4 linked regions of the Homo sapiens genome follow. The protein of the gene in region 1 interacts with the protein of each later gene in a biochemical or structural test. Each region holds a gene or a part of one and is shown in the gene's direction. Other genes may lie near its edges. The genes, in order: PDGFRB, CRK, CAV1 and NHERF1.

The links.
Region 2: the proteins of PDGFRB (region 1) and CRK form a complex in vitro, tested with the Homo sapiens proteins (one study listed by BioGRID).
Region 3: the proteins of PDGFRB (region 1) and CAV1 form a complex in vitro, tested with the Homo sapiens proteins (one study listed by BioGRID).
Region 4: the proteins of PDGFRB (region 1) and NHERF1 form a complex in vitro, tested with the Homo sapiens proteins (2 studies listed by BioGRID and IntAct, with this or other methods).

The regions. Positions count from the first base shown.
Region 1 is NC_000005.10:150,113,325-150,117,867, reverse strand, and holds the end of PDGFRB (platelet-derived growth factor receptor beta isoform 1 precursor), read left to right. Parts: intron 1-17; coding exon 18-250; intron 251-1,921; coding exon 1,922-2,105; 3' UTR 2,106-4,029; downstream 4,030-4,543. UniProt on the Homo sapiens protein: Tyrosine-protein kinase that acts as a cell-surface receptor for homodimeric PDGFB and PDGFD and for heterodimers formed by PDGFA and PDGFB, and plays an essential role in the regulation of embryonic development, cell proliferation, survival, differentiation, chemotaxis and migration.
Region 2 is NC_000017.11:1,453,201-1,460,308, reverse strand, and holds the start of CRK (adapter molecule crk), read left to right. Parts: upstream 1-4,076; 5' UTR 4,077-4,191; coding exon 4,192-4,432; intron 4,433-7,108. UniProt on the Homo sapiens protein: Involved in cell branching and adhesion mediated by BCAR1-CRK-RAPGEF1 signaling and activation of RAP1.
Region 3 is NC_000007.14:116,556,000-116,561,679, forward strand, and holds the end of CAV1 (caveolin-1), read left to right. Parts: intron 1-2,946; coding exon 2,947-3,288; 3' UTR 3,289-5,180; downstream 5,181-5,680. UniProt on the Homo sapiens protein: May act as a scaffolding protein within caveolar membranes. Forms a stable heterooligomeric complex with CAV2 that targets to lipid rafts and drives caveolae formation. Mediates the recruitment of CAVIN proteins (CAVIN1/2/3/4) to the caveolae.
Region 4 is NC_000017.11:74,751,603-74,758,638, forward strand, and holds part of NHERF1 (Na(+)/H(+) exchange regulatory cofactor NHE-RF1), read left to right. Parts: intron 1-7,036. UniProt on the Homo sapiens protein: Scaffold protein that connects plasma membrane proteins with members of the ezrin/moesin/radixin family and thereby helps to link them to the actin cytoskeleton and to regulate their surface expression. Necessary for recycling of internalized ADRB2.

The DNA.
Region 1 (4,543 bases):
CCCTGCCCCGGGAGCAGAAGTACCAGCAGGTGGATGAGGAGTTTCTGAGGAGTGACCACCCAGCCATCCTTCGGTCCCAGGCCCGCTTGCCTGGGTTCCATGGCCTCCGATCTCCCCTGGACACCAGCTCCGTCCTCTATACTGCCGTGCAGCCCAATGAGGGTGACAACGACTATATCATCCCCCTGCCTGACCCCAAACCCGAGGTTGCTGACGAGGGCCCACTGGAGGGTTCCCCCAGCCTAGCCAGGTAACCACCCTGGCCTGGGGCCAAGGAAATTGTGCACAGTGTGTGTGTGTGTGTGTGTGTGTGTGTGTGTGTGCGCGCGCGCGCGCGCGCTGCCAGGTTTGCCTCAGAGGTAAGTTACGTAGGGTAAGTACTTATCCCTACCAATGAATAGAAGACAGAATGGAACTCATTTGAACTTTGATGCCCTGAGGTGGAAAGGGCAGGCTAGTAAAAACAAAAGTATGGGCTGGGACTTACTTGCAAGGTAGCTATTTCCTTTAAGGGAGCCCCCAGAGGTTATCTATACTCTCTTATCTCTAGGTCCTGTCCTAGCCCCAAAAAGAAGAAGCAAACCTACTTAGCATCCCCAGCACCCCAGCTGTTACTCATGGCCAGCCTGAGGCCTATGTTCTGTTCTTCAGCACCACGCCCTGGGGCCAGAGGGAGCCTGCTTGGTTGTAGGAGTCAGAGGTGCCTAAAGGAATTCAGGACAGAATTCAGACTGGGAAGGAGATTCGTGGTTTTCTTTTGCCTTGGGAAGTGGTGAAGTTACAGCCCAGAGGGGGCTTTATAGGAGGACCCTGCTGTTGTGTGGACTTGATGTCCACGCAGGATCTCCCCTTAACTGGAGAGAAGGGCTCCCCATGAGGCCACGCCCACCTCCAAAGCGAGATCCAGCCCAAGGTGAAGTGGCTGGAGCCCCAGGCTGGGGTACTGTCCCAACTCTGCCACTAGCCGCTGAGACCTGGGAAGGCTTCTCCTCTGCGAGCCTCAGTTTCTCCATATGTGCCAGGAGTGCACACCGGCCTTAGAAGGCTCCGAAGGCCCTCATTGCTCTAACTGTTGAAGAGGCCAACCATCCAAGAGTCCCAGTGGATGGTGCAGAGGAGTGAAGTGCAGCGCTCACACAGCTTGAGGTGTGAATGCTCACCCTGTTTTGTGCCCTCAGACAAGCTGCTTCACTGTCTAAACATTGGTGTCCTCTTCTTTTTTTTTTTATTATTTTTATTCATTTATTTATTTATTTTTGAGATGGAGTTTCGCTCTTGTTGCCCAGGCTGGAGTGCAATGGCGCGATCTCGGCTCACTGCAACCTCCACCTCCCAGGTTCAAGCAATTCTCCTGCCTCAGCCTCCCGAGTAGCTGGAATTACAGGCATGCAGCACCACGCCTGGCTAATTTTGTATTTTTAGTAGAGTTGGGGTTTCTCCATGTTGAGACTGGTCTCAACCTCCTGACCTCAGGTGATCCGCCTGCCTCGGCCTCCCAAAGTGCTGGGATTACAGATGTGAGCCACCACGCCCGGCCAGTGTCTTCTTCTGTAAAATACAAACAGTAAAAGTACTTCTATTAGGCGGTCATTGCAAGGATTAAATGAGATAGCATACACCTTTAGGAGTGCAGAGGAGGGAGATGCTGGTGGGTGAGAAACGAGCTTTGGAGCCAGCTGACCCTGCTCCGAAGTTCCAGCTCCTGCACTTCCCTGCTGTGTGAAGTGGGGCAGTGATATAACCTCTCTGAGCCACACTTTCCTCACGGTGCAGGCCTTGCATAGTTTTCACAAGAGTTAAATGAGCCGGAGTGTGTGAAGCCTACGGTGCAGGGGTGGACACACCGAAGGCTCTTCATGACTGCTGCTGGAATCCTCCTGGGCTCCTTCCTAGCCCCTCACTCACTGCCTCTTTCCTCTAGCTCCACCCTGAATGAAGTCAACACCTCCTCAACCATCTCCTGTGACAGCCCCCTGGAGCCCCAGGACGAACCAGAGCCAGAGCCCCAGCTTGAGCTCCAGGTGGAGCCGGAGCCAGAGCTGGAACAGTTGCCGGATTCGGGGTGCCCTGCGCCTCGGGCGGAAGCAGAGGATAGCTTCCTGTAGGGGGCTGGCCCCTACCCTGCCCTGCCTGAAGCTCCCCCCCTGCCAGCACCCAGCATCTCCTGGCCTGGCCTGACCGGGCTTCCTGTCAGCCAGGCTGCCCTTATCAGCTGTCCCCTTCTGGAAGCTTTCTGCTCCTGACGTGTTGTGCCCCAAACCCTGGGGCTGGCTTAGGAGGCAAGAAAACTGCAGGGGCCGTGACCAGCCCTCTGCCTCCAGGGAGGCCAACTGACTCTGAGCCAGGGTTCCCCCAGGGAACTCAGTTTTCCCATATGTAAAATGGGAAAGTTAGGCTTGATGACCCAGAATCTAGGATTCTCTCCCTGGCTGACAGGTGGGGAGACCGAATCCCTCCCTGGGAAGATTCTTGGAGTTACTGAGGTGGTAAATTAACTTTTTTCTGTTCAGCCAGCTACCCCTCAAGGAATCATAGCTCTCTCCTCGCACTTTTATCCACCCAGGAGCTAGGGAAGAGACCCTAGCCTCCCTGGCTGCTGGCTGAGCTAGGGCCTAGCCTTGAGCAGTGTTGCCTCATCCAGAAGAAAGCCAGTCTCCTCCCTATGATGCCAGTCCCTGCGTTCCCTGGCCCGAGCTGGTCTGGGGCCATTAGGCAGCCTAATTAATGCTGGAGGCTGAGCCAAGTACAGGACACCCCCAGCCTGCAGCCCTTGCCCAGGGCACTTGGAGCACACGCAGCCATAGCAAGTGCCTGTGTCCCTGTCCTTCAGGCCCATCAGTCCTGGGGCTTTTTCTTTATCACCCTCAGTCTTAATCCATCCACCAGAGTCTAGAAGGCCAGACGGGCCCCGCATCTGTGATGAGAATGTAAATGTGCCAGTGTGGAGTGGCCACGTGTGTGTGCCAGTATATGGCCCTGGCTCTGCATTGGACCTGCTATGAGGCTTTGGAGGAATCCCTCACCCTCTCTGGGCCTCAGTTTCCCCTTCAAAAAATGAATAAGTCGGACTTATTAACTCTGAGTGCCTTGCCAGCACTAACATTCTAGAGTATTCCAGGTGGTTGCACATTTGTCCAGATGAAGCAAGGCCATATACCCTAAACTTCCATCCTGGGGGTCAGCTGGGCTCCTGGGAGATTCCAGATCACACATCACACTCTGGGGACTCAGGAACCATGCCCCTTCCCCAGGCCCCCAGCAAGTCTCAAGAACACAGCTGCACAGGCCTTGACTTAGAGTGACAGCCGGTGTCCTGGAAAGCCCCCAGCAGCTGCCCCAGGGACATGGGAAGACCACGGGACCTCTTTCACTACCCACGATGACCTCCGGGGGTATCCTGGGCAAAAGGGACAAAGAGGGCAAATGAGATCACCTCCTGCAGCCCACCACTCCAGCACCTGTGCCGAGGTCTGCGTCGAAGACAGAATGGACAGTGAGGACAGTTATGTCTTGTAAAAGACAAGAAGCTTCAGATGGGTACCCCAAGAAGGATGTGAGAGGTGGGCGCTTTGGAGGTTTGCCCCTCACCCACCAGCTGCCCCATCCCTGAGGCAGCGCTCCATGGGGGTATGGTTTTGTCACTGCCCAGACCTAGCAGTGACATCTCATTGTCCCCAGCCCAGTGGGCATTGGAGGTGCCAGGGGAGTCAGGGTTGTAGCCAAGACGCCCCCGCACGGGGAGGGTTGGGAAGGGGGTGCAGGAAGCTCAACCCCTCTGGGCACCAACCCTGCATTGCAGGTTGGCACCTTACTTCCCTGGGATCCCCAGAGTTGGTCCAAGGAGGGAGAGTGGGTTCTCAATACGGTACCAAAGATATAATCACCTAGGTTTACAAATATTTTTAGGACTCACGTTAACTCACATTTATACAGCAGAAATGCTATTTTGTATGCTGTTGAGTTTTTCTATCTGTGTACTTTTTTTTAAGGGAAAGATTTTAATATTAAACCTGGTGCTTCTCACTCACAGACTTTGTGGTCTCTCTCGGGTTTGGGTTCCTGCCCATAGGGAGTGTGGAGTGGGGCACATGAGGCTCACCCAGACGCAGACCCCCAGACAGGTCCCTTCAGCTCTGAGTCTCATTTCATTCATCTGTAAAGTGGGGATTTTCGCTCTCCCACCCCTCGCTGGAAGCTGGGGGGCCTAGACCTTGGGCTTGGTTTCCCAAGGTGGGAAGCGAGCAGGCTTTTCTGGCTCCACAGAGCCTGGCCTTGAGTCGGGCAGGAGGGTGTGGGGCTGCAGGGCTGCTCCAAGGCTCTGGTGCTGAGGCGTCTCACTGCCTCCACCATGTGCTTTGGCTTTGGCTATCAGCTGGGACACCCTCCCCTCCACTCCGCCCACAGGCCCGGATTGAGGCCGGCGTGCTCTGTGACAGGCAGCTGCTAGAGCCCAGATTCCAGGTCCAGGTGAGTCATGATCAGGCCCCAGGTAGGAGAAGGGCAGACAGAGTGTCCAAAAGCGTGAGAGCACGAAGTGAGGAGA
Region 2 (7,108 bases), on another chromosome or scaffold:
GGACTGTGTTATTCCTTAGACCATAATCCACAGCTTACTGCTTTTTTAAAAATGTAGATTTCTGCCAACCCTTCCTCCCAATTCCTATCTCAGAAAATTGAGGGTAGAGCAGAGTGACCATAGCTGTCTCTCCTTCCAGGATTTGAACCCTAGCTCCTCACTCTGCGACCATGTCTCTCTGGACACATTACTTAAACTCTCTGAGCTTCAGTTTTCTCTTTTGTAAGATGGGGATACTTGTCAAATAAGGTTGTTGAGAGGATTAAATGAGATGATCCATACAAAGGCAGTCAGCACTGTGCCTGGCAGATGGTCATCTCTGAATCAATGTTAGCGGTCCTGAATGCTTCTGGAGCACCTCATAGACTAGCTGCTTGGCCTTTGAGGACATACACAGAACTGCAAATGAAAAATTACAGTAAAATGGGTAAGAGCTGTCATGGGAATAATTTGGACATACTGCTGTTGATGAAGAGAGGGAGTGATGGGATGGTTAAGAAAGGGAAGACATTTGGGCCGGGTGCGGTGGCTCACGCCTGTCATCCCAGCACTTTGGGAGGCCAAGGCAGGCAGATCACAAAGTCAGGAGATCAAGACCATCCTGGCTAACACGGTGAAACCCTGTCTCTACTAAAAAAAAAAAAAAAAAAATTATCCAGGCGCGGTGGCGGGCGCCTGTAGTCCCAGCTACTCGGGAGGCTGAGGCAGGAGAATGGCGTGAACCCGGGAGGCGGAGCTTGCAGTGAGCCAGGATCGCGCCACTGCACTCCAGCCTGGGCGACAGAGCGAGACTCCGACTCAAAAACAAAAAAAAAAAAAAAAAAAAAAAGAAAAAGAAAAAAAGAAAGGGAAGACATTTGAATTTGAGACTCCAAAGTGGGTAGAAGAACATTCCAGGAAAAAGAAACCCAGCATTCACATAGGAGCAGTTAAACGAGACTGTGGACCAGCACAGTGGTACCTCTATAATCCCAGCTACTGAGGAGGCTGAGGAAGGAGGACCCCTGGAGCCCAGGAATTAGAGTCCAACCTGGGCACCATAAGAAGACCTCATCTCTTTTTTTTTTTTTCTGAGACGGAGTCTCACTCTATCGCCCAGGCTGGAGTGCAGTGGCTCGATCTCAGCTCACTGCAAGCTCCGCCTCCTGGGTTCACCCATTCTCCTGCCTCAGCCTCCTGAGTAGCTGGGACTACAGGCGCCCGCCACCACGCCCAGCTAATTTTTTTTGTATTTTTAGTAGAGACCGCGTTTCACCGTGTTAGCCAGGATGGTGTCGATCTCCTGACCTCGTGATCCACCTGCCTCAGCCTCCCAAAATGCTGGGATTACTGGCGTGAGCCACAGCGACCAGCTGACCTCATCTCTTAAAAAAATGATGATTATTATTTTAGAGAGGTGGTCTCACTCTGTCACCTGGGCTGAAGTGCTGTGGCATGATCATAGCTCAATACAGCCTCGAACTCCTGGGCTCAAGTGATCCACCCGCCTCAGGTTCCTGAGTAGCTGGGACTATAGCTGGATGTGCCACCACGCTCGGCTATAAAGAAAAACAATGTTTTTTGAGATGGAGTCTCGCTCTGTCGCCCAGGCTGGAGTGCAATGGCGCGATCTCACCTCACTGCAACCTCTGCCTCCCGGGTTCAAGTGATTCTCCTGTCTCAGCCTCCCGAGTAGCTGGGACTTCAGGCACCTGCCAGCACATCCGGCTAATTTTTTGTATTTTCAGTAGAGATGAGGTTTTGCCATGTTGGCCAGGCTGGTCTCGAACTCCTGACCTCCTGGCCTCCCAAAGTGCTGGGATTACAAGCATGAGCCACTATGCCTGGCCAGAAAAAATTTTTAATTAAAAAAAAATGAGCCTGGCCAATATGGTGAAACCCCGTCTCTACTGAAAATACAAACATTAGCCGGGCGTGGTGGCGGGTGCCTGTAGTCCCAGCTACTCGGGAGGCTGAGGCAGGGATAATCGCTTGAATCCGGGAGGCGGAGATTGCAGTGAGCCGAGATCACGCCACTGCACTCCAGCCTGGGCAACAGAGCAGGAATCCATCTAAAAAAAAAAAAAAGAGAGAGAGAGACTGTGGCCCAATTTTATGCTCTGAGCTAAACTGGGAGTTTGAACACCTGAAGACTGTTAAAAGTTTTACACAAGGTAGCAACACATTCAGATTTGTATACATATATATATATTTTTGAGACAGGATCTCCCTCTGTCACCCAGGCTGGAGTGCAGTGGCATGATTTCGGCTCACTGCAACCTCCGCCTCCTGGGTTCAAGCGATTCTCCTGCCTCATCCTCCTGAGTAGCTGGGATTACAGGCGCCCGCTAACACACCTGGCTAATTTTTGTATTTTTAGTAGAGACCGGGCTTCACCATATTGGTCAGCCCGGTCTCGAACTTCTGACCTCAGGTGATCTGCCAGCCACAGCCTCCCAAAGTGTTGGGATTACAGGCATGAGCCACGGCGCCCGGCCAGATCTGTATTTTAGAAAACTCAGTGGGAGTTGTTTGCAGTGCGATTAGGGGCAGCCAGACGAAAGAGCACCAGCGAGCACGACACTCGTAGGAACACAGTCCAGAGGCAATCATGAGGGCAGTGAGAGTAGGAGATGCCCCTGGCTACAATTTAGTGTTTAGAATTATCTGGGCAGGTGACCCCAAAGCCTCAAAAGAGAAGAGAACTCTGTACTTCACGTGGCTTGGTACACTCTGCTCCCTTTGCTTTGAATGTCCTTCCCCGCCGAGTGCGGTGGCTCACGCCTGTAATCCCAGCACTTTGGGAGGCCGAGGTGGGCGGATCTCAAGGTCAGGAGATCGAGACCAGCCTGGCTAACACGGTGAAACCCCATCTCTACTAAAAATACAAAAAGTTAGCCGGGCGTGGTGGCGGGTGCCTGCAGTCCCAGCAACTCGGGAGGCTGAGGCAGGAGAATGGCGTGAACCCGGGAGGCGGAGCTTGCAGTGAGCCGAGATCACGCCCAGGCACTCCAGCCTGGGCGACAGAGCGAGACTCCATCTCAAAAAAAAAAAAAAAAAAAAAAGAAAGAATGTCCTTCCCCATTTGTCATTCAGCAGTCAACACATGCTGCCTCCTCTGGGAAGCCCTCCTGGATTACTCCATAGACTGGCTGTGGGGGCTCTGCTCTGTGTTCATGTCCGTTTCCCATGATAGCGTTTGTCAGCATTTGTCATCCTTTTGTCATCCAGTTTCCTGGTTCCTCTCACTGGTCTGTGAGTTCGAGGAGTGCAGGGCCCAGCCATGATAACCTTTGCACCCGCAGTGCAAGTGGAGTGTCAACAACAATGTCCTAGGTGAATCAATGAAAATGAGAACGTCAGCTGGTCTGTGGAGAAGCTAGAGGAACGAGCAGAAACGGACCGACGTGGCCGGGCGCGATGTTTCTCGCCTGTAATCCCAGCACTTTGGGAGGCCGAGGCGGGCGGATCACCTGAGGTCAGGAGATTGAGACCATCCTGGCCGACATGGTGAAACCCCCGTCTCTACTAAAAATACAAAAAACAGCCGGGCGCGGTGGCTCACGCCTGTAGTCTCAGCTACTCGGGAGGCTGACGCAGGAGAATCGCTTGAACCCGGGAGCAGTGAGCCGAGATCGCGCCATTGCACTCCAGCGTGGGCGACAGAACAAGACTCCGTCTCAAAAAGAAAAAGAAAAAAGAAACAGACTGATATCGCAGGAAGCCTGGCCGAGAACTCAGGCCCCAGGGCCACACGCATCTTTTCTCCTCCAATTCTGTCTGGGAGTCGCTGCCTAGAAGTCCCAGGTCGTCCAGGAACCGGGGCCCAGACGAGAAGCACCGCTCTGTCCGCAGCGCAGGCGCGCGTCTCTGCGGGAGGCTGCGAGGCCCCGCCCCTCGGGCCCTAGACCCCGCCTCCCATCCCCCGCAGCCCGGGCCCGGGAAGGGCGGCACCGCCCATGAATCCGCATGCGCAGTGCGCGCGCGAGGGCGCCTTGCCCTTCTCCCAATGGCGGGCCGCGGGCCCCTTCCCGGCAGCCTCCCTCGGGCAGGGAGCGCGTCATTTCCGGAGGGGGAGGCCCGCGGCTGCCGCCGCCATTTCGGGCGCTGCTGTGAAGCTGAAACCGGAGCCGGTCCGCTGGGCGGCGGGCGCCGGGGGCCGGAGGGGCGCGCGCGGCGGCGGCACCCCAGCGTTTAGGCGCGGAGGCAGCCATGGCGGGCAACTTCGACTCGGAGGAGCGGAGTAGCTGGTACTGGGGGAGGTTGAGTCGGCAGGAGGCGGTGGCGCTGCTGCAGGGCCAGCGGCACGGGGTGTTCCTGGTGCGGGACTCGAGCACCAGCCCCGGGGACTATGTGCTCAGCGTCTCAGAGAACTCGCGCGTCTCCCACTACATCATCAACAGCAGCGGCCCGCGCCCGCCGGTGCCACCGTCGCCCGCCCAGCCTCCGCCCGGTGAGGGACTGACGGGACGGCGGGCCCTGGGCGGGGTGAGGGCCGCGGAACTCCCAGCCTGGCTGGCTGGTCCTCGAGAGCGGACCCTCGGGGGTCGTGGGCAGAGGGCTGGGTGACCGTGGCAGGGGCCCGCCGGCTGCTCGGGCTCGCTCTCACCCGGGGAGCAGGAGTGTGGGGGAGGAGGAGCCGCGGACCGAGGCCCCGGGGTGTGCCTGGGGAGGGCAGCCGCGGGGAAGGGGAACTGCTTCGGCCCCAGGGTGGGGCTGGCTCCCGGGCCAGGCGCAAGGGTAGGGCAGGGCAAGGCAACGTGGGGACAAAGAGCTGAGGGAGATGTTGGCACTGCGGGGGCATCACTTGGCAGCGGCGCCCAGAATGAATCCGATAATCCTACAAGTGGCTTTTAGGCTGGAAACGTTTCCTGCCGTGTTGGAGAGCCGGGTTTGGCCGTGCTCCCCTGGTGGCCTTTGGTAGGAAGTCACCACATACTGGCCGGGAGGGATGGAGACACCCTCAGGAAACCGGTCAATTTTTTCCTTTCTTGGGCATTTTTCCAAAATCTTTGTACCGTTCTCTTCCCCCGTGGAGGACGAAGGTGGTGAACTAAGTGCTAGAAGAAATAGTGGTAGCAGAAAGCCTTCAGTGACCAGCCCAACCCAGTTTAAGGCGATGCCTGGCTATGTGCAAGAGATCTAAGCGTCCAGAAGACTGTCCGCCGTTAGAGAGTTCTGGTTTTCAAAGTGTTTAGTGGAGGAAAGACATTTTATTCCACAAAATAAACCAGAAGTGAGGCAATGGAAACAGACCCTTCCCTGTAAGTGACTGGAACTTCATTTTCCTTGGACTTAAACATTGTCGGTGTGTACTTCAGGGCGTCACCTTGCTCAGTAAGATGGGGCTGCGGGCTGAGTCTTCCTGGATATTGGGAACAGACTCTACGCCAAGAACATAAATTACCTGCGCTGGGTTTTCCTTGCCAGGGAGGGATCCCTGAGATTGACTGTCTTACCGATGCCGTTGGAGTTGATTTGGGACTGTTTTAAGGGAATAGATAGATGCCCTTAGTACTGGAGATTTGTGAGGTACAAAGTAATTCTGGGGTTCTCATTGTATGTGTACCTGTGTAACAGCATCAGGAGTCCTCGTGCCTTCACGCTGTTGCCAAGTCGAAGCAGTTTCTTCTTGGCCAGCTGAGAATGGGTTCAGACTAGTCTCATATGAATCAGGAAGCTCTTGAGCCGTCCTTTGTAGACTTGCCCTTGTAGAATAGTTCTAATTTAGATTTACTCGCTCCGGCCAGAAATAGAGAATTGGATAGGCAGTCTCTTTGTTAACACACACCAATTTTTATTTTACTCTTTTCTAAGACGGAGTCTTGCTCTGTCACCCACGCTGGAGCACAGTGGCGCAATCTCGGCTCACGGCGATTCTCCTGTCTCAGTCTCCCAAGTAGCTGGGATTACAGGCACCCGCCACCATAACCAGCTAATGTTGTATTTTTCGTAGAGACGAAGTTTCACCAGGTTGGCCAGGCTGGTCTCGAACTCCTGACCTCAGGTGATCCACCAGCCTCGGCCTCCCAAAGTGCTGGGATTACAGGCAAGAGCCACCGCGCCTGGCCAACACATACTAATTTTTTTAAAATTTTTCTTATTTATTTCTTACTTATTTATTTATTTTGAGACGGAGTCTCTCTGTCGCCCAGGCTGGAGTGCAGTGGCGCGATCTTGGCTCACTGCAACCTTTGCCTTTTGGGTTCAAGTGATTCTGCCTCAGCCTCCTGAGTAGCTGGGATTGCTGGTGTGCATCACCACCACGCCCAGCTAATTTTTTGTATTTTTAGTAGAGATGGGGTTTTACCAGGTTGGCCAGATTGGTCTTGAACTCCTGATCTCAGGTGATCCACTCGCCTTTGCCTCCCAAAATGCTGGGATTACAGGCGTGGGCCACCGCACCCAGCTTTGTTTGTTTGAGGCGGAGTTTCGCTTTTGTTGCCCAGGCTGGAGTGCGATGGTGCAATCTCAGCTCACTGCAATCTCTACCTCCCCGGGTTCAAAGGATTCTCCTGTCTCAGCCTCCCTAGTAGCTGGGATTACAGGCACACTCCACTACGCCTGGCTAGTTTTTGTATTTTTAGTAGGGTTGGGGTTTCGCCAAGTTGACCAGGCTGGTCTCGAACTCCTGACCTCAGGTGATCTGCCCACCTCAGACTCCCAAAGTGTTGGGATTACAGGCGTGAGCCACCACACCCAGTCTAACACAACCATTTTTTAAAAATGAGTATGGGGTCTATAAGCTCACAAATTATCCTAGATCTTTCTCATTGTGGCCTGTTTAATAGTATTATGAGATGGGAATATTGATGTACCTGTGTTGGCCCTGAACCAGATATATTCTACTTTGATGCCACCTGCATAGTATCTGGGGTTTTGCATTATATGTCGTCACATGATGGCAAACTGTCATTGAAACTCACTTTTCAGCCTTTTGTTTGTGTTTGTTGGTTGCCAAAGTTGAAAATGGCAGCAGGCAGGTTTGTTAGTTTGATATTTTTTCATATCTTAGCATAACGATTTTATGTCTCAACACTTACCGTGATAATCGAGCACCACCTTTTCAAAACAGATAAGAACTCAGTTCCTTGGCTGAGGAAAGACGGTGAAGATTGCCAAAGTTTAT
Region 3 (5,680 bases), on another chromosome or scaffold:
AACATGTTATTTTTGTCATGTTGCTTTCCACCCCTGGAGACCTGCTCTAAATTCACTTGGACGTTTGAGGATAAATCATGCTCACTAGCAGTTTCTGAAAATGCAGTTTCACTGAAAATGCAGGCATCCAGAAATTTAGTAAGCAACTTAAAAGAAAGTGTAAGAATCTCCTATGTATTCATTGAAAAATAATTTGAATTTATGCTTAGAAAAATAGAATTATTATTAAGAAATCTTACACACTCATGTTTTTAAATATCTTCACTAAGGACCAATTGTGTATATGGTGTAACACTGTCCTCAAAGAACATGCCGGGAGAATTGTTGCAGTTACCAGAGGGTTAAATTTGGCAAACTCTTTTTTATTAACGTGCCTTTTAATTATGAAATAGCATACTCACCTTAGATAAAATTTGAAAACCATTTTTGTAAAGTGGTACAATATTGAAGAAAGTTGATAACTTTCAGACCAGATTTAAGCCTCAAATCTACCTCTCTTTTACCTGGACAACTCATTAGCATTTCTGAACCTCACATTTTTTCTATAAAGTGAGAATACTATATTATAGAGTTGTTGTCAGTTAAATGAGAACAGTGTCTGATCACAACTAGTCAACAAATGTTCACAACTCTTCCCCTCCTAGGAAAAGAATCTCAAGGCAGACCTGCTTCGGGTCTGCTCTGTAAAGAGGTAGGAATCCTCTGCTCCCGGTAAATTGCTTCCTAACCTTCTTTGGTAATAGACTATTTTTTAATAAAGGTGATGGATCATTTCCCATTATACACTCAAAATGTGTGTCCATTTCAGGGCAGTCATGGATGACCATTGCCCATCTTTTGACCCCAGATTAAGAACACCTGCTGTAGTATTTTAATTCTGCCTTCAAATCCTCTTACAAAACAAAGACATCTTTAAAAAATAAAATTCTTTAGGTGTCTTGCAGTTGAATGCAGGAAAACCAGAGCCCCTTATTTTTGATAGTTTTGGGAAGAATGCAGTGTCAGAACACAAACCCATAATAGACAAATAATTTGCACAGAAACTTCATAAAAGTATTGACCTGATTTGCCATGTATTTGCCACCTTTTAAAACACACAACTAAATGTTTACCCTGTGTCTAGATCCAAATGGGTGAAGAAAAATGAGTGACAATACATCTACTTAAGCTCACTTACATAATTGTGGCCATGCCGTTTTTTTCACATTACATTATTAGAACATTGGACAATAAGTCAAGAAACAGAATGTTCTACAAAATAAACTTTAAAAATTGGTAAGCATCATGTGCTTTTTCCAGAAGACATTTTATTTTGTTGAATCAAAGGTGGCTCTTTGGCACTGAGTAGCTCCGTGGAGTCATGGCAGTCCTCATTCCCTAATCCTGAGCCTGCCTGAGTCGCTGCTGTCAGTCATCCACTTGTTGGGATTTCAAACTGCATTAAATCCCCTCCTATAGCTGTCACTGCCAAGCAGTTGCACTGGCTCTGTCCTACCTTTCTGTTGGTAATTCTGTTTTTAATCCTGTGCTTCAGTGTAGTTTATATAAATCTTTACAGAGGGATAAAACTTCCTGTAATTAATTGTTTGGGTGAACATGTACCTGGGAGAGCTATTGGGAAAGGGGCCAAATTTGCATTCCAGCTCCTTTCATCCCCACCCTTGAGCTAACCAAGTCCTGTGGATTCTTCCCTTAGCATCTCTGGAACCTTCTTTTCTTTTCTTTTTTTTATGACCACCTTTCCAGTCCTGGCCCTTCAAACTTGAGTGACAGCAACAGTCTCCCTGCCTTGAGTCTCTTTCCTCCTTCTCCCAGTGTGCATACGGTTGTCAAACTCATCTTGATAAACTACTGCATCGATTGTGGCTACACTCCCCTGCTCCCACATCTTCCATAGACCCCACTGTCTGTAAAATAATATTCAGTCTGGCCTCAACCTGTCTTTCCAGCCTCGGTGACACAGGTCTATTCTGCCTGAGACACTTACTATGACACCCTTGCTTGTTCCTGGGGCTTTGACACATTTCCAACGTCCCATTGTTCTTCCTCTCCAAATCAGCCAATTGCCCAAGCCCTGCTCAAATCTCCCACCTCATGAAGCCTTCTTGATGCCTCCCAGCACACCATGATCTAATTTCCTGAAGTAATTATGCTAATTGGGCATTTGAAGAATTGTTAACCGATTATCAACTAACTGCCCCTTAACATTGCATGTGTAGTTGTCTTCAAAGGCAGTTAAATTATGTCATGTTCCTTACATTGTACTGAGTGCCTCGTATCCTTATCCATGTTTGGGGGTTTTACTTTAAGTCAAGAAATTTAATCACATCCATTTGGTTTTCTCTAGAGCTGTAGTTCTCAACCTTTTGTGTGGTAGAGAAACACCTAGAGAACATGTTTAAAAATATCCTGGGTTCCACCCTTGAGAGATAATAAGGTCCAAGGGGAACCCAAATATCTGTGTTTCAGGTCAGCTTATTGGCTCATCCTATTATACCAACTCCTCAGAAGGCCAAGGTGGGTGGATTCCTTGATCTCAGGCGTTCAAGACCAGCCTGGGCAATATCGTGAGACTCCATCTCTTAAAAAAAAAAAAAAAAAGGATTAGCCAAGTGTGGTGGCATGAACCTGTGGTCCCAGCTACTTAAGAGGCTGAGGCAGACAGATTGCTTGAGCCTGGGAAGTCGAAGCTGCAGTGAGCCATGATCATGCCACTGCACTCCAGCCTGGGTGACAGAGCAAGACCCTGTCTCAAAAAAATAAAAATGAAAAAAATCTGTGTTCCCAAGTTCCAAGTGATGCTGATGCTGCTGGTTGCCTTTAAGCATCTCACAAAGAACGAACTCATAAATGCTAATACAGTATATGTCTATGGATACTGAATAGTGGGTTTTTTTTCTCTTTTCTTCTATTCTGTGCTCATGTTGTGTCACTTCTTCCTTTTAGATTGACTTTGAAGATGTGATTGCAGAACCAGAAGGGACACACAGTTTTGACGGCATTTGGAAGGCCAGCTTCACCACCTTCACTGTGACGAAATACTGGTTTTACCGCTTGCTGTCTGCCCTCTTTGGCATCCCGATGGCACTCATCTGGGGCATTTACTTCGCCATTCTCTCTTTCCTGCACATCTGGGCAGTTGTACCATGCATTAAGAGCTTCCTGATTGAGATTCAGTGCATCAGCCGTGTCTATTCCATCTACGTCCACACCGTCTGTGACCCACTCTTTGAAGCTGTTGGGAAAATATTCAGCAATGTCCGCATCAACTTGCAGAAAGAAATATAAATGACATTTCAAGGATAGAAGTATACCTGATTTTTTTTCCTTTTAATTTTCCTGGTGCCAATTTCAAGTTCCAAGTTGCTAATACAGCAACAATTTATGAATTGAATTATCTTGGTTGAAAATAAAAAGATCACTTTCTCAGTTTTCATAAGTATTATGTCTCTTCTGAGCTATTTCATCTATTTTTGGCAGTCTGAATTTTTAAAACCCATTTAAATTTTTTTCCTTACCTTTTTATTTGCATGTGGATCAACCATCGCTTTATTGGCTGAGATATGAACATATTGTTGAAAGGTAATTTGAGAGAAATATGAAGAACTGAGGAGGAAAAAAAAAAAAAAGAAAAGAACCAACAACCTCAACTGCCTACTCCAAAATGTTGGTCATTTTATGTTAAGGGAAGAATTCCAGGGTATGGCCATGGAGTGTACAAGTATGTGGGCAGATTTTCAGCAAACTCTTTTCCCACTGTTTAAGGAGTTAGTGGATTACTGCCATTCACTTCATAATCCAGTAGGATCCAGTGATCCTTACAAGTTAGAAAACATAATCTTCTGCCTTCTCATGATCCAACTAATGCCTTACTCTTCTTGAAATTTTAACCTATGATATTTTCTGTGCCTGAATATTTGTTATGTAGATAACAAGACCTCAGTGCCTTCCTGTTTTTCACATTTTCCTTTTCAAATAGGGTCTAACTCAGCAACTCGCTTTAGGTCAGCAGCCTCCCTGAAGACCAAAATTAGAATATCCATGACCTAGTTTTCCATGCGTGTTTCTGACTCTGAGCTACAGAGTCTGGTGAAGCTCACTTCTGGGCTTCATCTGGCAACATCTTTATCCGTAGTGGGTATGGTTGACACTAGCCCAATGAAATGAATTAAAGTGGACCAATAGGGCTGAGCTCTCTGTGGGCTGGCAGTCCTGGAAGCCAGCTTTCCCTGCCTCTCATCAACTGAATGAGGTCAGCATGTCTATTCAGCTTCGTTTATTTTCAAGAATAATCACGCTTTCCTGAATCCAAACTAATCCATCACCGGGGTGGTTTAGTGGCTCAACATTGTGTTCCCATTTCAGCTGATCAGTGGGCCTCCAAGGAGGGGCTGTAAAATGGAGGCCATTGTGTGAGCCTATCAGAGTTGCTGCAAACCTGACCCCTGCTCAGTAAAGCACTTGCAACCGTCTGTTATGCTGTGACACATGGCCCCTCCCCCTGCCAGGAGCTTTGGACCTAATCCAAGCATCCCTTTGCCCAGAAAGAAGATGGGGGAGGAGGCAGTAATAAAAAGATTGAAGTATTTTGCTGGAATAAGTTCAAATTCTTCTGAACTCAAACTGAGGAATTTCACCTGTAAACCTGAGTCGTACAGAAAGCTGCCTGGTATATCCAAAAGCTTTTTATTCCTCCTGCTCATATTGTGATTCTGCCTTTGGGGACTTTTCTTAAACCTTCAGTTATGATTTTTTTTTCATACACTTATTGGAACTCTGCTTGATTTTTGCCTCTTCCAGTCTTCCTGACACTTTAATTACCAACCTGTTACCTACTTTGACTTTTTGCATTTAAAACAGACACTGGCATGGATATAGTTTTACTTTTAAACTGTGTACATAACTGAAAATGTGCTATACTGCATACTTTTTAAATGTAAAGATATTTTTATCTTTATATGAAGAAAATCACTTAGGAAATGGCTTTGTGATTCAATCTGTAAACTGTGTATTCCAAGACATGTCTGTTCTACATAGATGCTTAGTCCCTCATGCAAATCAATTACTGGTCCAAAAGATTGCTGAAATTTTATATGCTTACTGATATATTTTACAATTTTTTATCATGCATGTCCTGTAAAGGTTACAAGCCTGCACAATAAAAATGTTTAACGGTTAAACAGTCAGCTTTATTATTTTTTCCCAAAACAGGTGTTTATGTGTCAGAGTCTGTGTATGTCTATGTATTTGTATGTAATGAGCATGTGCATAGTGTGTGTATGTGTTTGTATGTGTTTGTGGGGGGTAATGGTCTCCCACTTTAAAATTATTACAAAGTCACTTAGGATATTTCTGCTAAGGTCATCACCATTTATGAGTTGCTTCAGATAAAAGTTATAATTAATAACAAAGTTTTTTTAGCAATTTGCCCAATGTTTTATATGTCATCTAATTTGAGCCCCCAGCAAGCTTGTGTGATGGATATTAATACTCTTAACTTAGCGAAAGACACAATTTGCATTCGGGGCCAATGCCTTCAACTTTGCCATGCCTTAACTGGGTTTTAAAGAGGTATATTGCAGTCTCAATTTATGTTTGTTGCTTGGCTAAGTTTACCTTCAGGACTCCTATATTAGGGTTCTCCAGAGAAACAAAACCAATAGGAGATAGTTGGAGATAG
Region 4 (7,036 bases), on another chromosome or scaffold:
TAAGGAGGTGGAAGTGGCTCTCCAGCTCTGCCCACCGGCTTTGCTTTGTGGATGGCCTTCCCCGCCTGCCCCGTGGGGAGAGAGGAGCAGCAAGACCCGCCCTGCTGTTCCCCTGCTTAAAGCCCTCCTCCCCCCATTCACCACCAGTCACAGGATGAGGCCTAAACCCTTGAGTCTGGGTTCAGAGTGCCGGCCGGGCAGAGCCGAGCCAGCTCAGCTGTACTAGCCAGGCTGTGCGAAGCCAAGTTACCTCACCTCTGTAAGCCTCCATTTCCTCTTGTGTAAGTTGGGGGTTATGGCAGCTACCTCGGAATTGCATGAGGCTGTGTGTAAAGCACGTAGCTCAGTGCCTGGCACTGAGTCCAGGCTCAGCCAGCCTTTGCAGTTGGTATTGGAATGAATACATATTTCATAGTGATCATTGCACACCTATCATGGGGCAGCTAGCGCTGGGTCAGCCTGCCTAGTTGGGCAAATGCCACTGTGGCCAAGCCTGGCACACAGTCAGTGCCTGATCGATGGTCACTGTGGGTTAAGAATGATACGTTGTGGCCAGGTGTGGTGGCTCACACCTGTAATCCCAGCACTTTGGGAGGCCAAAGTGGGAGGATCGCCTGAGCCCAGGAGTTTGAGACCAGCCTAGGCAACATGACAAGACCCTGTCTCTATTAAATTTTTTCTTTTTTTTTTTTAAGAGTTATATGCTGTTCCATGGCCCTTCTCCATCTGGCAGCCTGTTCTCACCACTGCCTCCCTACCCCCAAAACCACACCCAGGGTCCGAATTCCCCTCTAGCCTCTAAGCCTTCACACCCTGACACTTCTGTCCCCTCCCAGGGAGCCTGTCCTTAATCCAGTAGGCAGAGTTAGCATTTCCTTTCCTTCACTTTTTTTGTTTTTGTTTTTGTTTTTGTTTTTTTTGAGACAGATTCCACCCAGGCTGGAGTGGTGTCGCAACCTCGCCTCGCTGCAGCCTCGACCTCCAGGGCTCAATCGATCCTCCCACCTCATTCTCCCTAGTAGCTGGGACTACAGGCATGCACCACTATTCCCAGCTAATTTTTAAATTCTTTGTAGAGATGGAGTTTCACCGTGTTGCCCAGGCTGGTCTTGAACTCCTGGGCTGAGGTGATCTGCCAGCCTCGGCCTCCGCCTCCTCTTTGTCCTTACATCTTTTATCGCTCTAAACACACAATATTTTAATCATCTGTTTGTGACCTTTTTCTCCACTACGTGGTAAGCCCAAGGGCATCAACTGTGGCCTATTTGTGTTTCTATCCCCAGCGCTGTCCTTGGCACATGGTAGGGAGGCTCTCAAAAACAGTTTTTGAATTAATGAATGAATATATAACAACAGTCAGGGACCTTTGTCCTCATTCAGCTCATCCCGCCCCGCCCAGAGATTGGAATTCCAGATAGAACCTACCCACTCTTCTTTCTTGCCTGCTAGCAGCTTCTATTTGAAAACTAGAAAGCCAAAAGTCCAGGCTTTGGGGTCAGCCAGATCAGTGTTTGAATCCCAGCTCTGCCGTGTGCTGGTTCTGGGATCCTGGGAGTTCATTTTTCCCTGCAACCCTCAGCCTCCACCTCTGTGAAAGGCACTGCCTGCAGGGTTATTGGGAAGATTTGGTGGCATGACAGGTTTGTAAATGAAAGTGCTAGTTTGGGGTGTTTCCTGCCAGCCCTGACCCTGATCCCAGAGTCAGAGTGCAGGCACCCCAGGGAGCAAGGTGGGTGGTGGGGCACAGTTAGCTGGAGGGCCATCAACCTCTTTCCCAGGGCGGGCGGGCCATTTTACACCAACCAAGTTGGAGCTCTGGTAGGGCAGAACAGAGCTTGAGCTGCTGGGTGTTTGGATTTGAAATGGACAGGGTATGTGATTGTTTGTGTGTTGGGATCTCTTTCTTTGCTGGCAAAACAGTGTAGCCCCTGGTTCTTACCTTCAAGCTCCTGTTAACTCAGTAATTCTGGAGATGATTCTCTTGGAGATAGATGGGGGCTTCCTGGCCGGGCGCAGTGACTTGTGCCTGTAATCCCATCACTTCGGGAGGCTGAGGCGGGAGGATCGCTTAAGCCCAGGAGTTTGAGACCAGCCTGGGCAACATAGTGAGACCTCGTCTCTACCAAAAAAACAGGGGGAGGGGGGTGAATGGGGGCTTCCTTCTCAAGGAACTCCATATGTCTAGATGGGGTCCTTCTCCCCTTTCCCAGATGTCCCATCTCAATGGTCCCTGGGAAAGTGGGGTGGGAAATTAATAAGAAACTCAGGCCAGGCACGGTGGCTCACGCCTGTAATCCCAGCACTTTGGGAGGCCGAGGCGGGTGGATCAGTTGAGGTCAGGAGTTGAGGTCAGGAGTTCAAGACCAGCCTGGCCAACATGGTAAAAACCCATCTCTACTAAAAATACAAAAATTAGCGAGGCGTGGTGGCAGGTGCCTGTAATCCCAGCTACTCGGGAGTCTGAGGCAGGAGAATGGCTTGAACCTGGGAGGTGGAGGTTTCAGTGAGCCGAGATCGCGCCACTGCACTCCAGCCCGAGCAGCAGAGTGAGACTCATCTCCAAAATAAAAAAAAAAGAAAGAAGAAGCTCAGCCGAGGTCTTGTTGGTGCTGCAGGACTCTTTACAGGGAGAAACCAGAGCTCTAGACCCCAATAACAAATGTTCCTCTGTTTTCGTTGCTCTAAGATAGAGTGGCCCTACCTGGAAGGAAACAGGTTTGTACAGTGCCTTTAGGCACTCTACCTATGACATAAAGATGTTGACATGCATTTCTTTCTTTCTTTCTTTCTTTCTTTCTTTTTTTTTTTTTTTTTTTTCCTGAGACAGTCTTGCTCTGTTGCCCAGGCTGGAGTGCAGTGGTGTGATCTCGGCTCACTGCAACCTCCGTCTCTCAAGTTCAAGCAATTGTCCTGCCTCAGCCTTCCATGTAGCTAGGATTACAAACACCCGCCACCACACCCTGCTAATTTTTGTATTTTTAGTAGAGACGGAGTTTCACCACGGTGGCCAGGCTGGGTGGCACCTGTCACAACACCCTGCTAATTTTTGTATTTTTAGTAGAGATGGGGTTTCACCACATTGGCCAGGCTGGTTTCAAACTCCTGACCTCAGGTAATCCACCTGCCTCGGTCTCCCAAAGTGCTGGGATTATAGGCATGAGCCACCACACCCAGCCAATATGCATTTCATTGTCCCCCAGACAAATTAGCTATTGTTTTCTCTATTTTGTAGGTTGACAGTAAGTGTTCAATACATGATAGCTACTATTTGTGTCTAGCACTGTGCTAAGTACTAACCTTGCCTGTCTCATTTAATCCACATGACCACCAGTGAGGCAGATATTGGCCCCATTCTCTGCCTATGGAGGCTGAGGCTTGATCAGTTAAGGTGGCCATGGCGGGTCCCAGGACTCTGAGCTAGCGACTCCTCCCACACAGCGCAGGGGTGTGTCTTGGAACCCAACCCTCTGACTCTAGTGCCTGCACAGCCATTTGGCCACATGAGTAGGCTGTGCTTGAAGCCTGACTCTGCCAGGTGTTTCTGCCCATCATATTCTGAGCCACAGCTGGACCATCACAGTGGTATAAATTCAGGCTGCTTGAACTGGCTTCCTGTAAGGATCCAGGGCTTCCAGGTGCTCCTGTCCCTAGCAGGGCATCCTTGCAGTGCCTCAGCCCATAAGTGGCAGGCTCCTGTCCCCATCCCTTCTCACGTGATGTGATAGGTCAATCTGGAATCTGGTAACCAAGTATCTACCCCCGCCCTCACTCCCCAGAACCTGCACAGAGAGCCCCCCTCAAGGGTGGTCTTCACTGTTGACCGAAGCCTTCCCCTCATGGTAGGACAACTCACCATGTCCCCAGACTCCTAGGCAATGTTTAGGTCCCTAGGCCCTAGAAAAGGACAAGAGTTACAGATTCCCTGAGGTCCAGGTCACCTCGGGGTGGTGTGGGAACACACAGAGAATGCTGGCCAGGTTCAAGTCCCACTCACTGCTGGGTGCTGAGAGCTCTGAATTCTCCGAGACAGGCTGCAGCCTCTCCCTGTGCTAAGGTCAGGGGAACAGCAATGGCCAGGGGTATTTAGAGGAGTGTGTTTGGGGCAGTCTCAGGCAGCACAGGTCTGTGCTGTCCGGGCAGCAGCCACCAGCTTCGCGAGGCTCCCGGGCACTCGAGATGTGCTGGTCCACATGCAGACGTGCTGTGTGTGCAAAATGCACACCAGATTTTGAAGCCATTGTACAAATAAAAGGATGTACAATAGCTCAATTGTTAAAAATGGATTACACATTGAAATGATAATATTTTGGGTACATTATGTTAAATAAAATATTCAATTCTACTATTTTTCCTGTTTTTTTTTTTTTTGGAGGCAGAGTCTCGCTCTGTTGCCCAGGCTGGAGTGCAGTGGTGCGATCTCGGCTCACTGCAAGCTCCACCTCCCAGGTTCAAGCGATTCTCCTGCCTCAGCCTCCCAAGTAGCTGTGCACCACCACGCCCAGCTGATTTTTGTATTTTTCTTTTTTAGTAGAGATAGGGTTTCACCATGTTGACCAGGCTGGTCTCAAACTCCTGTGCTCAAGTGATCCACTTGCCTCGTCCTCCCAAAATGCTGGGATTACAGGCATGAGCCACCACACCTGGCCTATTTTTCTTTTCTTTCTTTCTTTCTTTTTTTTTTTTTTTTTTTTTTTGAGACGGAGCCTTGCTCTATCACCCAGGCTGGAGTGCAGTGGCGTGATCTCGGCTCACTGCAACCTCCGCCTCCTGGGTTCAAGCGGTTCTCGTGCCTCAGCCTCTGGAGTAGCTGGGACCACAGGTGTGCACCACCACATATGTCTAATTTTCATATTTTTAGTTGAGACAGGGTTTCACCATGTTGGCCATGCTGGTCTTGAACTCCCGACCTCAGGTGATCCACCTGCCTTGGCCTCCCAAAATGCTGGGATTACAAGTGTGAGCCACTGCACCCGGCCTATTTTTCCTTTTTCAAATGTGATGACTAGAAAATCTTACATTCCACACATGGCTGGCATTATATATCTACTGGACAGTGCTGCTCTGGATCTGAGCTCAAATCCTGCCTTTGCCCGTCAGCCATGTGTACTTGAGCAACTGACTCCAGCTTTTTGAAGCTGGGTTTCCTTTTCTGTGAAATGCTGGCAATAATACTTTCCTTTTAGGACTATAATTGGCTCTTAAGAAGAAAACACATGTAAAGAGCTCGGTGCCTAACACATAGTAGGTGTTCAGTAAATAGCAGCTGCTATTTGTTACTTCAGTGTTGAGCCCCAATTTCACAAGCTCCTTGAAGGTTCTTAATAGCCCCTTGGGACAACCCCTGGGGGTTAAATCTAGAGACTTCTGGGAGGAGGGTGAGGGATGAGGAAGGATGCAGCAGGGAAGGCATGGGGCGGCCAGCCCTGGATGGTGTCCAGCCGGGCTGCAGCCCAGGTACCAGCCTGCTCCATCCCAGGCTTGCCCAGCCCTGCAGAGACCTGAGCCAGACTCTGCCCCCTCTTGCCCCCGTGGGTCTCCATGGCTGGCACAGGGAGAAGAGGTTACTAGCCAGAAGGAGAACCTGTTTCAGACCTCTGAGTCCTGGGGGTGTCTGTCAGACCAGCAGACCTCACTTTAGTTTGTGTCTCCCTCCTGGTTCCCACCCTACCAGACTCCAGGGAAAGCTCTTCCCACTGAGAAATAGGAAGGAAGAGATCAAGGGCTAGGAGCAGTGAGTGACTTTTTTTAAAATGGACACATCCAACATTCCCCTGCCGCCCGCACAGACCTGGAGGGATGTGGAGGGTGGAAGGGGGTCCCATAGAGTAAAATGAGGTGACATCAGGGCCACTACGCAGGGGGCCAGTGACAGCCAAGCCCCCTGTACCTCACCTAGGGTAAGGAGAAGACACCTTCTGCCTAGAGGTGTGGACACTGGCTGAGTGCCTGGAGCCCCTGGTCACTTCCCAGTGCCCCCAGGCTGCCCGTCACACAGCACTCCAGGCAGGGCCAGCTGTCTCCATCCTGGCTTCCTTGAAGAGCTGGCACCAGGCCCAGCCCTGTCTCCAGAATCTGGGGAACAAACTGAGCTGTCTCCCAGAGCAAATATGGCTCTTACACCCAACATACTCCTGACACACACACCCCAGCCCCTGAGAACAGCCAGGGTTCCTTCCTGCCCCCGCCGTCCTGCCCCCTTCCATCCTCTTGTTGGGGCTGATTTTCCTGTATTGGGCATGGGGCACTGGTCTTCTTTGCATAAACAAGAGCCCTGGGCTGGGGGAGGGGCAGTCTTGAGAGGTGGGGTTACCTCTGTTGTTCCCCTGGACACCCAAGTGGTCTTCCTACTCCTCCAGCCCCTTTCCTCTGGGGTCCTGAGCTAGCTGGCTCGAAGGAAGCGGGCTGGGCTGTTTCTGTAGGGCCCATCACCATGGCATCAGCCAGGGAGGGGCTGGGCCCAATGGGGCGTTGGCCCCCAGGCTCCCACAGCCTTCCCTGAAGGGAGGAAGGAGGAGCAGGGAGCGGCCCTGGGCCTGTTCCCCAGAGACGGTCACTGGGATTAGGGTATCGACTTTCCCCAGCTTTCCAGGTGACTGCTGGTGGCGCCTATTGAATTCCGTGCCCGCCATCCGCTCCCTGGACTGCGTGGGTGGAGGTGATGGGGCGGCCACTTAGGGCGCGGTGAAGCTCCCTGGGGGAAAGGACAGATGAAGGGAGGAAGCCTGAGGGTGGAGGAGGCCCCGGGAGAAGGGTGTGGGGGCAGCTCTCCGGGCAGGGTCTTTTCTGGAAAGCCAGCCAGCATTTTGTGAAAGTGAGAGTCTCCAGCCTGTCCAGCCCTGGGTCACCCCGGCCCAGCTGCGCTGCCCATCGGCTGCATGGCCTCATGTTCCCTCCTGTTGATTCTGGCTCTCTGCCAGTCTCCTCTCTGAGCAGATCCTGATTTTGTCTTGAACTTGGGTCTCCCAGGCTGTCGTCGTCACTGGAGGTCCCACTTTGCCCTCCGGAACTCACTGGGGCTATGTTCCTTTTGAGTCTC